Linked DNA regions of Homo sapiens. The protein of the gene in region 1 interacts with the protein of each later gene in a pairwise test. Each region holds a gene or a part of one and is shown on either strand. Other genes may lie near its edges.

Region 1 (7,347 bases):
CCAAAGTGCTGGGATTACAGGCGTGAGCCACCGCGCCCGGCCTAGCAACGGTTTTAAACTTGGTGTGCTGGGGCTAAGGAAGGATCGCTCTAGAAACACATAAGCACATACAATATTTTGCTTACGATTTCAGGCAGCTGATCTCTCTCCACCCCACCCCCGCATCTCAAACCTAAATAGGCATCAGAAAAACCCCTGGATTGAGTGAAAAAACCCAAACTTTTCCCCTGGCAGTTAACACTCCAGGTCAAACTCTTCCCTCATACAAGCACATTCTTTTATTAAATAGATTCTCTACTATGTCACCCAGGCTGGAGTGCAGTGGCTATTTACAGGCGTGAGGCCACTACTGATCGGCACAGGAGTTTCGACCTGCTCCATTTCTGACCTGGGCCAGTTCACCACCCCTTAGACAGTCGAGTGGTCCCCAGCTCCCAGGGGGTCACCATACTGACACTGAACTTACTGCACACACTCAATCGACACAGCGCACTACAGCCCTGAACTCCCGGGCTCAAGCAACCCTCCAGCCTCAGCCTCTTGAGTAGCTGGGGGTACGGTGTGTGCCACTGTGCCTGGCAATACACACATAAACTCTCTCTCTGTTTCTTGTTCAAGAAACTGCCCCTTTGCAATGTTCTACTCTCTCAGCCTTTCAAGTTTTTGTTGTTGTTGTTGTTAGATGGAGTTTCGCTGTCTCCCAGGCTAGAGTGCAGTGGCACGATCTTGGCTCACTGCAACCTCCACCTCCCAGGTTCAAGCGATTCTCCTGCCTCAGCCTCCCGGGTAGCTGGGACTACAGGTGCCCACCACCATGCCTGGCTAATTTTTTTTGTATTTTTAGTAGAGATGGGGTTTCACCATGTTGGCCAGGCTGGTCTCGAACTCCTGACCTCAAGTGATCCGCCTGACTCAGCCTCCTAAAGTGCTGGGATTACAGGCACAAGCCACTGGGCCTGGCCTCCTTTCAAGCTGCTTTTTTTTTTTAGATGGAGTCTCATTCTGTCACCCAGGCTGGAGCGCAATGGTGTGGTCTCGGCTCAATGCAACCTCCAGCTCCCAGGTTCAAGCGATTCTTCTGCCTCAGCCTCTCCAGTAGCTGGGACTACAGGTGTGTGCCACCACACCTGACTAAGTTTTGTAATTTTAGTAGAGATAGGGTTTCACTATGTTAGCCAGGCTGTTCTCAGACTCCTAACCTCAAGTGATCTGCCCGCTTCAGCCTCCCAAAGTGCTGGGATTACAGGCGTCAGCCACTACGCCTGGCCTCCTTTCAAGCCTTTTCTTTTTCTTTCTTTCTTTTTTTTTTTTGAGATGGAGTCTTACTCTGTCACTCAGACTGCAGTGCAATGGCGTGGTCTTGGCTTACCGCAACCTCCACCTCCCGGGTTCAAGCGATTCTCCCGCCTCAGCCTCCCAAGTAGCTGGGACTACAGGCGCGGGCCACCACACCCGGCTAATTTTTGTATTTTTCGTAGAAACAGGGTTTCACTATGTTGGCCAGGCTGGTCTCAGACTCCTAACCTCAAGTGATCTGCCCGCCTTGGACTCCCAAAGTGCTGTGATTACAGTATGAGCCACTGCAACAGGCCTCCTTTCAAGCTGTTTAATCGAACACCAACTGTGTGTTATGTATTAAGGGACAATGACCTTGTACCTTAATACAAGACGAGCGTGTAGTCCCCTGAACTACACGCTCGCCGAAGCCAAACAGACCTTGTTTGGGTCATTGTACCTTAATACATAACACACAATTGGCGTTCGATCAAACAGCGGACAACCACCTCTCAATGTCCATCTACCTGGCAAACTCCTAGTTATTCATTTAAACAATCTAGAGACGGGGTTGGGTACTGAACGTGACAGATGTGATACCTGCCCTGAGCAGCCGCACCACCTGGTGACTATCCATTATTCAAAGGCCAGCTCTGCTTCCTAACTTTAAACTTCTTTAGAGCAGGACTGGAATCCTGTTGCCTAAATGAACGAACATTGATAAACACTTGCCAATAACTAAAACTCAGAGGGATAATTCTTTTTGATTTCTGCTGCAGGCATCTGAAATGCACAAAACCTTGCTGGACCCACAGGGAGACGGCAAAGGGGGCTGGACAGTGCCTGTCCCATGGACTCCCATCCGGCCTCTATCACTTCCTCCCTAGAAAACACTAAAACAATCACGCTACTCCTGCTAATCTCCGTCATCAGTCTGCAAAACAACAGCAAAATCCCTGATCCAGAGCCCAGGGGGGAGGATCGAAAACCTCGTTGTTCTCCATTACAGTGGCACCCAGCAGCCGCTCTGTGCAGGGCCGTGGGAACAGCGGAACAGGGATCGTGTGGACCGAGCTGCTCCACTTCAAAGAATAAACGACCCGAAAGAAAGAGGTTTGTGGCAGAGCCCGGACTGGAATCCGAGAAAGGAAGCGCTCGATGGGACGGCCTGAGTGCCGGAGGGGACTCACGCTGCTGCTGCTCCAGCGCCAGCTTGCACTTGTAGTAACTGTAGAATTCGCCTCCGAAAAGAAACGAGAATTTGGGGTTGTCCTTCTGCTTCTCCATAGTCATCTTCTCAAACTCGGGCCCATTGCGAGCCACGAACTGGGCGAGCTTGTCGATGACATTTCGAAGCTCCTGGTCTGGAGGACGGAGAAAAGGCCACGCGGGGCGTCAGCGAGGACCGCCCAAAGCCGGGGGACTCGGCGCCCCAGCCCCCGTCCGCCTTGCCGGGGACCCCAAGGGGGTGGGCCCCGAAGAGGCCGCCCTTGTACGGGTCCCGATAGGGGCCACACGCTCGCCGGGAATGCGGGGACCCACGGGAGAGGCCGCAGGCGAAGCCGCGAGGCCGAGCCCCGCCCCCTCCCAGACCCGGGGACTCCGGGAGGCGGGGCCGGCCAATAGGAGGTTCCGGGGAGAGAGAAACGGTCTCTCGGCCGGTTTGGGTCTCACCATCGGGGGGCAGCGGCATCTCCATGGCTCCGGCCGCGGGGAACGTCCTCCGGCGCCACACGATCGACCACCAGCGCCGTCTGCGGAAGCCGGCCGGAAGTGGCGCGAGGGAGCCGTTTACGGCGGGCTTCTAGGGCCGCTTCCGCCCGCCACTTACGGCCGTCGCTGGGAAACTCCGGAAGTGAGAGCGGGAGGCAGGCGGGAAGAAGCCGCGCGATGCCTGGCGCGCGGGAGGGGCTAGCGACGCGCACGCGCAGAAGTTTCCTGACACTTTCGCAGAGTGGGTCCCCGTCGCGCGGCGCCGCGGAAAGGCTGGAACGGCGCGGGTGGGTGTTAGTCGAGACCGGGGGGCGCGGGGCGTGCCCCTTGGTCGGCGTCGCAGCCCGATGGGCTGGCTGGTTGCTACCTCCGGGCGACCAGGGGCCTGGGGACTTCGTGCCTGGGCCAGGGTCTCTTTCCTTTCGCGGGCACAGTGAGGAGACTGCGAGGTGAGGTGCGTCCGGGTGGATCCCGGGCTGCGGCGACTGTCACATTCTCCCCGGCCAGACCGGAGGTGGAGCAGAACTGGGGGCGACGAGCTTGACTGGGATTGCAGCTGGACGTATTTAGGTTCAAAACATCCTCCTCCTGGCTTTCTTCCGCTCCACTCTTTGGTCAGGAAGACTGGGGCGGGGTACCCCCCAACCCATGCCCTCAAATTGCTGGCCTAGAGGGCACAGCGCCTTTCTAAAAGCTGCAGTTGGGTTGCCTCTAAAATAATGAAGCTAACCCTTGCTAATTGTGGGGAAAAGATAGCCAGAAGCAGCAAATTTCTGCTGTGGACGTCCGATATAAACTGATCCTCTTGAGATGGTTAATGCTTAGTTGGCTATACCTGCCCCCCGCCCCCGCCGCTTTTTTTTCCTTTATCCGTTTTTTTTTTTCTTTTTTCTTGAGACAAGGTCTTGCTCTGTGGCCCACGCTGGAGTGCAGTGTCATGATCATAGCTCACTAGCCCTGAACTCCTGTGCTCAAGTAATCCTCCCGCCTCGGCCTCCCAAAGTGCTAGGATTATAGGCATGAGCTACTTTACCCAGCCTGTTTTTTTCTGTGCAAATAAATGCACATGTATTTTAGATTAGTTTCATTTTTATTGTTAACAGCATTTTTCCACCAGATGCTTATGGATTGACAACTCTACATCAAGTGTTGCTGTAGGCTAGGAATCAACAAAACTTTTTGTATAAAAGGGACAGAAAGCAAATATTTTAGACTCTGCAGGTCAGGAGGCAAGATCAAGGATTTTTTTTTTTCTAAATGTCCTCTAGTTCATATTTTCTCATGAAGATCGAGGATCTTAATTGTTTGGTTTTTTTTTTTTTTTGAGACACAGTCTTGCTCTCTCTCGCCCAAGCTGGAGTGCAGTGGTGTGATCTCGGTTCACTGCAACCTCTGCCTCCCGTGCTCAAGCAATTCTCCTGCCTCAGCCTCCAGGGGAGCTGGGACTACAGGTGCGCACCACCACGCCCGGCTAATTTTTGCATTTTTAGTAGAGATGGGGTTTCACCAGGTTGGCCATGCTGGTCTTGAACTCCTGACCTCACATGATCTGCCTGCCTTGGCCTCCCAGACTGCTGGGATTACAGGTGTGAGCCACCCTACCCAGCCTTATTTAGGTATTTCTATAACCAGAAAGAAAAGTTCATAAAATTTTTGTTGGTGAAAATCAAAATATGATAACTGAGTAGTTTCTTAAATACAAGTTGCTACAGTTTGAATGTTTGTTCCTAATCCCCAGTGAAACAGTATTAAGAGGTGGAGCCTTTAAGAGGTGATTGGGTTATGAGGTCGTGCCATTCATGTGTTAATGGATAAATAGGTTATCATGGGAGTGGGACTGGTTTGGAGCTTGCAGTGAGCTGAGATTGCACCACTGCACTCCAGCCTGGGCGACAGAGTGAGACTCCATCTCAAAAAAAAAAAATAAATAAAATAAATAAAATAAAATAAAAAGAGGAAGAAAGGCCAGGCTCAGTGGCTCATGCCTGTAATTCCAGCACCTTGGGAGGCCAAGGCACGCAGATCACCTGAGGTCAGGAGTTCGAGACCAGCCTGGCCAACATGGAGAAATCCCATCTCTACTAAAAATACAAAAATTAGCCGGGCATGGTGGCGGATGCCTGTAATCCCATCTACTTGGGAGGCTGAGGCACGAGAATCACTTGGACCCAGAAGGCAAAGGTTGAGGTGGAGGTTACAGTGAGCCAAAGTCGTGCCACTGCACTCCAGCCTGGGCAACAGAGCAGGACTCCGTTTCAAAAAAAAAAGGAAGAGAGACCTGAGCTTGCACACAGCCTGCTAGCCATGTGATGCCCTGTGCTACCTCAAGACTCTGCAGAGTCCCCACCAGCAAGAAGGCCCTTGATTTTGGATATCTCAGCCTCCAGAACTGTAAGAAATAAATTTCTCTTCTTTAAAAATTGCCCAGTCTCAGGTGTTCTTTTATAGCGATGCAAAATGGACTAAGACCCAAGTCTATTCATAAGAGTGGAATTCTTTTGGGGGATAACATTTCACTTAATTGGGGCTCCCAGTTGTATTTCCTGTCGTCAATTGATGGTACATGTTCACCTTTGAAAAACCTTCCTGGCTCACAAAAACAGGCGGCCAGTTGGATGTGGTTTATAGATACGGTCATGCACAACTCAGATCTCAGCTCTGCTCTCAGGGGACTCAGTCTATGGCGGGGAAGAGTCCCAAAATCAGTAAACAAATATATCATCTCAAAGGTGTTATTAAGAAGAGGATGCTGAGACTATGATACAAGGGAGGGTGAGGCCCAGGCTGATAGGGTTGTCAGGAAAGGCTCTCGAGGTGAGGTCTGCACTATGATCTGAACAAGGGGCCAGCTCTAAACACCCTAAACAGGCAGAGAGAACAGTGTGGGATCATACTGTTTATTTAAAAAATATTTTTTATTTTTTATTTTTTTTGAGATGGAGTTTCACTCTTGTTGCCCAGGCTGGAGTGCAATGGCGTGATCGCGGCTCACCACAGCCTCCGCCTCCCGGGTTCAAGCAATTCTCCTGCTTCAGCCTCTCGAGTAGCTGGGATTACAGGCATGCGACACCACACCCGGCTAGTTTTTTATTTTTAGTAGAGATGGGGTTTCTGCCTGTTGGTCAGACTGGCCTCAAACTCCCAACCTCAGGTGATCCACCCGCCTCAGCTTCCCAAAGTGCTGGGATTACAGGCATGAGCCACCGTGCCTGGCCCTAAATTTTTTATATATTTTTTTGAGACGGAGTCCTGTCTGTTGCCCAGCCTAGAGTGCTGTGGTTCAATCTCGGCTCACTGCACCTTCCGCCTCCCACACTCAAGTGATTCTCCTGCCTCAGCCTCCTAAGTAGATGGGATTACAGGCGCCTGCCATCACACCCAGCTAATCTTTGTATTTTTAGTAAAAACGGGGTTTCACCATGTTGGCCAGGCTGGTCTTGAACTCCTGACCTCAACTGATTTGCCTGCCCTGGCTTCCTAAAGTGCAGGGATTACAGGCATGAGCCACCGTGCCCAGCCCATACTATTTGAAGAACAGTCAGTAATCCAGAGTGTGGGCACTTTTCATGCCAGGTAAAATCTACATGAAGAAGTTTTTTTTGTTTTTTTTGTTTTTTTTTTTTTTGAGACAGAGTCTTGCTCTGTCACCCAGGCTGGAGTGCAGTGGTGTGATCTCTGCTCACTGCAACTTCTGCCTCTGGGGTTCAAGCAATTCTGCCTCAGCCTCCCGAGTAGCTGGGACTACAGGTGCACACCACACCCAGCTAATTTTTTTTTTTTTCTGAGGAGTCTCACTCTGTTGCCCAGACCGGAGTCCAGTGGTGCAGTCTCTGCTCACTGCAAGCTCCACCTCCCGGGTTCACACCATTCTCCTGCCTCAGCCTCCCGAGTAGCTGGGACTACAGGCACCCGCCACCGCGCCCGGCTAATTTTTTGTATTTTTAGTAGAGACGGGGTTTCACCGTGTTAGCCAGGATGGTCTCAATCTCCTGACCTCGTGATCCGCCCACCTCGGCCTCCCAAAGTGCTGGGATTACAGGCGTGAGCCACTGCGCCCGGCCTACCCCCAGCTAATTTTTGTATTTTTAGTAGAGATGGTTTCACCATGTTGGCCAGGCTGGTCTAAAACTCCTGACCTCAGGTGATCCACCTGCCTCGGCCTCCCAAAGTGCTGGGATTACAGGTGTGAGCCACCGTGCCCGGCTACATCAAGGAGTTTTAACTTGGGATCTCCAATGGATAGATTTCAGAGAACCATGAACAAAATTGGTAGCAAAATAAATGCCTTTTTGAGGGTTGAAGATACACAGCGTTTACAGGATTCTTAATAGGCTCCTCAATCAGAACAGGTTAATGAAT
Region 2 (5,099 bases), on another chromosome or scaffold:
CAAAAAGACGAAGTTACCGCATCCAAACTCAAAAGAGTCAGAAACCTAAATGTAATAGCTAAAACTATAAATGTTTCAAAATAAAACATGGGAGAAAAATCTATGATATCTTGGGACAGGCAAAGAATTTAGACATGGCATCAAAAGCATGATTTATTAAAGATATAAATAGGACTTTATCGCAATTCAAAACCTTTGGGCACTTAGAAAGACACCATTAAGAAATGAAAAGAGTCAGGTGTCAGGTGGGTGTTTTGTTAAAATAATAAGAAAATGAAAAGAGAAGTGATAGACTTGGAAAAAAATTTGTAAATCACATACCTGGTGTAAGATTTGTATTTAGAACATGCAAAGAATTCTATAACTCAATAAGAAGACAATCTAATTTTAAAATGGGCAAAACATCTCAATATTTTACCAATGAAAGCACATGAAGAGCGGATAAGTGCATGCAGAGATACTCAACATCATTAGTCATTAGAGAAATGTAAATGACACTGCAAGATACTACTAAATACCCATTGGAATGTCTATAATAATTTAAAAACACAGATGATAACAAATATTGACAAGGATGTGGAGAAATGAGAATGTTTATACGTTGCTGGTGGGATGTAAAATGGCACATCTACTTCTCCACTTTGAGAACATTTGGCAGTATCTTTTTTAAAAAGCTAAAGATAGATTTTTCTATACAACCTAGCAATTTCACTTTATTATCTACCCAAGAGAAATGAAAATATATGTTCACACACAGACTTCTTCACAAAGGCTCATAGCAGAATTTCTTTATAATAGCCAAGGAGTAGAAACAACTCAAAATGTCCATCAATTGGTGAATGATAAACAAAATTTGGTATCATATAATATTATTCAACAATAAAAAGGTGAACTACTGATACAGGCTACATTATGGATGAACCTCAATTACATTACACTAAGTGAAAGAAGCCAGATGCAAAACGCTACATATTGGGTGATTCTATTTATATGAAATGTCCAAAAAATGCGCAGTTATAGAGACCAAGAGCAAATTAATGGTTGCCTGGGGCTGGAGATGGGAGTAAAGACTGACTACAAATGAAGATAATTGGTATTTTTGGCATGATGCAAATACTCTATAACTTGATTTTGGTGATGGATATACAACTCCATAAAAGTCACTAAATTGTGTACTTCAGATGGTACCTTTTATTATGCAAATTAGATTTCAATAAAACTGTTACAAATTGTGCCTGCGGACTCCACTAGTGTTGGTGTGTATACCCAAGGCTCCTGGGAAGCAGCTTTTTTTTCTAACCTTTCGTACAGCAGTAAGCAAGAGAATTCCCTATAGATTCAGAGGGCTCACTAGGGCTAATTTAAATCTGGTAATTTATGGGCCTGATGGGGCAACCTAGGTCTTGGATGTTAGTCAAGTATTTTGAAAGAATGCCAGCAGTAGGCCGGGCGTGGTGGCTCACGCCTGTGATCCCAGCACTTTGGGAGGCCGAGGTGGGCGGATTACCTGAGGTCGGGAGTTCGAGACCAGCCTGACCAACACGGAGAAACACCGTCTCTACTAAAAATACAAAATTAGCCGGGTGCGGTGGCACATGCCTGTAATCCCAGCTACTAGGGAGGCTGAGGCAGGAGAATCGCTTGAACCTGGGAGGTGGAGGTTGCGGTGAGCTGAGATTGTGCCATTGCACTCCAGCCTGGGCAACAAGAGTGAAACTCCATCTCAAATAAAAAAAAAAAAGTTCCAGCAGTGCCAAGGCAGTTGAATCACATGGTTTGTCATCCCATTTTTCTCACCTAGACTTTCAGTCTTGGTGTGCTGGCCCTGATGGTCTGTGTGGCAAAGCCAGTTTCAAAGGCTTACAGTGCTGCCTGAAGACAGTATCTGGTCCTCAAGATGCATGGAGGCCATCTCTACTGCAGATTTCCTTGGGGTCCAGGCCTCCCATTATGTTGGCCATTCCAGCCCCACAGCAGAGGTTCCTCTGGAGATGGACATCTAGATTGGCCAGTTCTTCTCATTCTTCAAACATTCTGAAGTTCTTTTCCTCCTGAAAATCTTCCCTCTGATTATTTTTTTCTTTAACCTTTACTCCATCTGGAAATAAAATGCCCCTAAGTGTGATATGAGGTATCAGAAGAACATGGCTTTGGAGACAACAATACGGTTTAAATTCCAACTCACCTCACTAGCCATGTGACTTTTGGGCAAGTTTCTTAGCTCCTCTGAGCCTTGTATTTAGAAATCTGTAGAATGGAGAGAATCATACCCATCACAAAGGGTTATTGTGAAGATGAAACAAGATCATGTATGGAAAGACTTGAGCACAATTGACCGACATGTAGTTGGTATTCCCTAACTGTTAGAACCAGAGAGTAGAGTGGGTCAGATCGTGGGCTCTGGGTCTGAATTTGCATTTGTGCTTTTCCACTTCTAGCCAAGTGAGCTGGGACAAATTCCCTCATTTTCTGTATATCTGTTTCTGCATCTATAAAACTGGCATTAATAGTACCCACCTTATTAGGACAGTCTGAAGATTAAGTGAGTTAATATATACAGCACTTAGAATACTGCCTGTTATGTAATAAGTTTTATATAAGTGGCAGCCACTGTTCTCTCACCACCCAATACAATGCCCTATTCCCTTGGAGCAGCATATTTGATTTATGTGGATTACATGTGAGGATTACAGGGACACAGTGGGCTGTCACTCCACAGACGACCAGGTAGGCCTGGTTCATCTGGCTGGTGGCCCACCAGTGGTGGGTTGTGAATTTTCTATCTCACTACATCACATGCATCTTCTCACTCCTTCCATGCTGATTCAGAGAAAGTACCTTCTCCACAGAAGAAAGGAAGTGTTGTCAGAGTAAGCTAGTGGTTGAACTTTTCTGCAGGAATGGATTCCCTGGATCCTCTCACGACCATGGACCCTCTAAGATCCCTGCATGCAGTATTGTGGGGTGTGATGAGAGCTCCTGTAGATTTGTCTCTTCTGCCTGCAAGTACCATAAAGTTGACACATCAGGTGTTTGAATGAAGTGGTAGCAGGGATGTGCTCTGTTCTTTCTTTGTCTCAAAGAACACTTCATCGGAGACTGCCTTAAGACCTTGGGGCTCTGTAGAATATATGCAAGTTGGTTGACTTGATTTATTATTAATTACCTCTTCTGCTTTAATTTCAGCTGATTATTTGCCTTGGAACCAACCAAGGCGAGAGCCACTTCGTCTGGAACACAAATACCAGCCGGCATCAGTCAGGTTTGATAACAGAACCACACACCAGGACGATTACCCCATAAAAGGCCTTGTGAAGACCATAAGCTGTAAACCTCTGGCCATGCCAAAGCTCTGTAACATCCCCTTGGAGGATGTGACTAACTACAAGATGAGCTATGTGGCCCACCCCGTGGAGAAGCGCTTTGTGCATGAAGCAGAGAAGTTCAGGCCCTGTGAAATCCCCTTTGAAAGCCTTACCACTCAAAAACAATCCTACCGGGGCCTGATGGGGGAGCCTGCCAAGAGCTTGAAACCTCTAGCCAGGCCTCCTGGGCTAGACATGCCTTTCTGTAACACCACTGAGTTTCGAGATAAGTACCAAGCTTGGCCAATGCCCCGGATGTTCTCCAAAGCTCCCATCACCTACGTCCCTCCCGAAGACAGGATGGATCTTCTGACAACAGTGCAGGCCCATTACACATGCCCTAAGGGTGCCCCAGCTCAGTCCTGCCGACCTGCACTTCAGATTAAGAAGTGCGGTCGCTTTGAAGGCTCTTCCACCACCAAGGATGACTACAAGCAGTGGTCCAGCATGCGCACAGAGCCAGTCAAGCCCGTTCCCCAGCTGGACTTGCCCACCGAGCCCCTGGACTGCCTGACCACCACTCGGGCCCACTATGTGCCCCACCTGCCTATCAATACCAAAAGCTGTAAGCCTCATTGGTCTGGCCCTCGAGGAAATGTCCCTGTGGAAAGCCAGACCACCTACACCATCAGCTTTACTCCCAAGGAAATGGGCAGGTGCCTAGCTTCATATCCTGAGCCTCCTGGCTACACCTTTGAGGAAGTGGATGCTTTGGGTCACAGGATATACAAACCAGTTTCCCAGGCAGGCTCTCAGCAGAGCAGCCATCTTTCTGTAGATGATTCAGAAAACCCCAACCAGAGGGAGTTGGAAGTGTTAGCCTGATTTTGAAAAATAGTAATTTAGAAATTACACAGTACTTTTAAAAGCAGACAACTGAGAATTATTTGTTGGACAAAAAAGAATTCCCTAAAATGACAAAAAACAAAAAACAAAAAACCTTCACCACTTCCAGAGCACTTGAATAAAATGAGAATCACTTGACTCAGGGAAAATGACATTTAATCACCGGCTAATTAACTCCCCTTACCTTCTCCTTTACTGCATCCCCACCCCGTTTCAGGTCCTTTACTTTGTGCTTATGGAATCAAAGTTGGTCTGTGAGGGTTTCTCTGATCCAGATGTATTTTATTAATTTAATCATTGTATGAACTGACATAATGATTAACCCTTGCCAAGTATGAAGCGCCAAAGAATAAATTTTATTTTGGGGGGAATGAATCTGTAGGCTGGCTATGCAGAGAGTAGTCCGTATTGCTTGGGACCTTTGGGAGATTTTATACTAGCACCCCCATTGTGTATCAGTATTGGTGGAGGTGCCTTGGGCCTGGTCTGGAGTCTTGTTTTGGGTTCTCTCTGTGCAGGGCTGCTTCACAAAGCATCCTTCTACCTCTTCACTGCATGACATACCAGCAAGAATAGTGCTGTTCGATGGGGTGTGGATCTCTTTAGTCACAGGTGATGGAGGGAAAGAAAGAGGGAGGCAGTGATGCATGAACCTACCAGACCTCTCCCCAACCCCAAGCTGGTACAGGCTATGATTCCAGGGAGAGGAGGGAGAAAAAGCACCCTTGGCAACCAGGCAGTCGACGCCTGGTCCTTGAGCTGTGAGCAAAAGCTGTGGGCTCTTCTAAATGCTCAGAGCCTGGAAGAAATTTCCCCAGGCTGGCCTGGTTTCTGGAGAGCCTGGATGTGCTTGTCCTAAAATGACAGCTGTGACCAGACCTGTGACAA

What was found. Proteins that work in one complex are often made in the same cells at the same time.
Region 2: the proteins of CHERP (region 1) and SAXO1 interact in binary tests that used the Homo sapiens proteins (3 or more experiments, as listed by UniProt).

Annotation. Positions count from the first base shown.
Region 1 is NC_000019.10:16,539,405-16,546,751, forward strand, and holds the start of CHERP (calcium homeostasis endoplasmic reticulum protein), read right to left. Parts: upstream 3,034-7,347; 5' UTR 2,975-3,033; coding exon 2,950-2,974; intron 2,640-2,949; coding exon 2,466-2,639; intron 1-2,465. UniProt on the Homo sapiens protein: Involved in calcium homeostasis, growth and proliferation.
Region 2 is NC_000009.12:18,927,143-18,932,241, reverse strand, and holds the end of SAXO1 (stabilizer of axonemal microtubules 1), read left to right. Parts: intron 1-3,186; coding exon 3,187-4,190; 3' UTR 4,191-4,592; downstream 4,593-5,099. UniProt on the Homo sapiens protein: May play a role in the regulation of cilium length. Stabilizes microtubules at low temperature.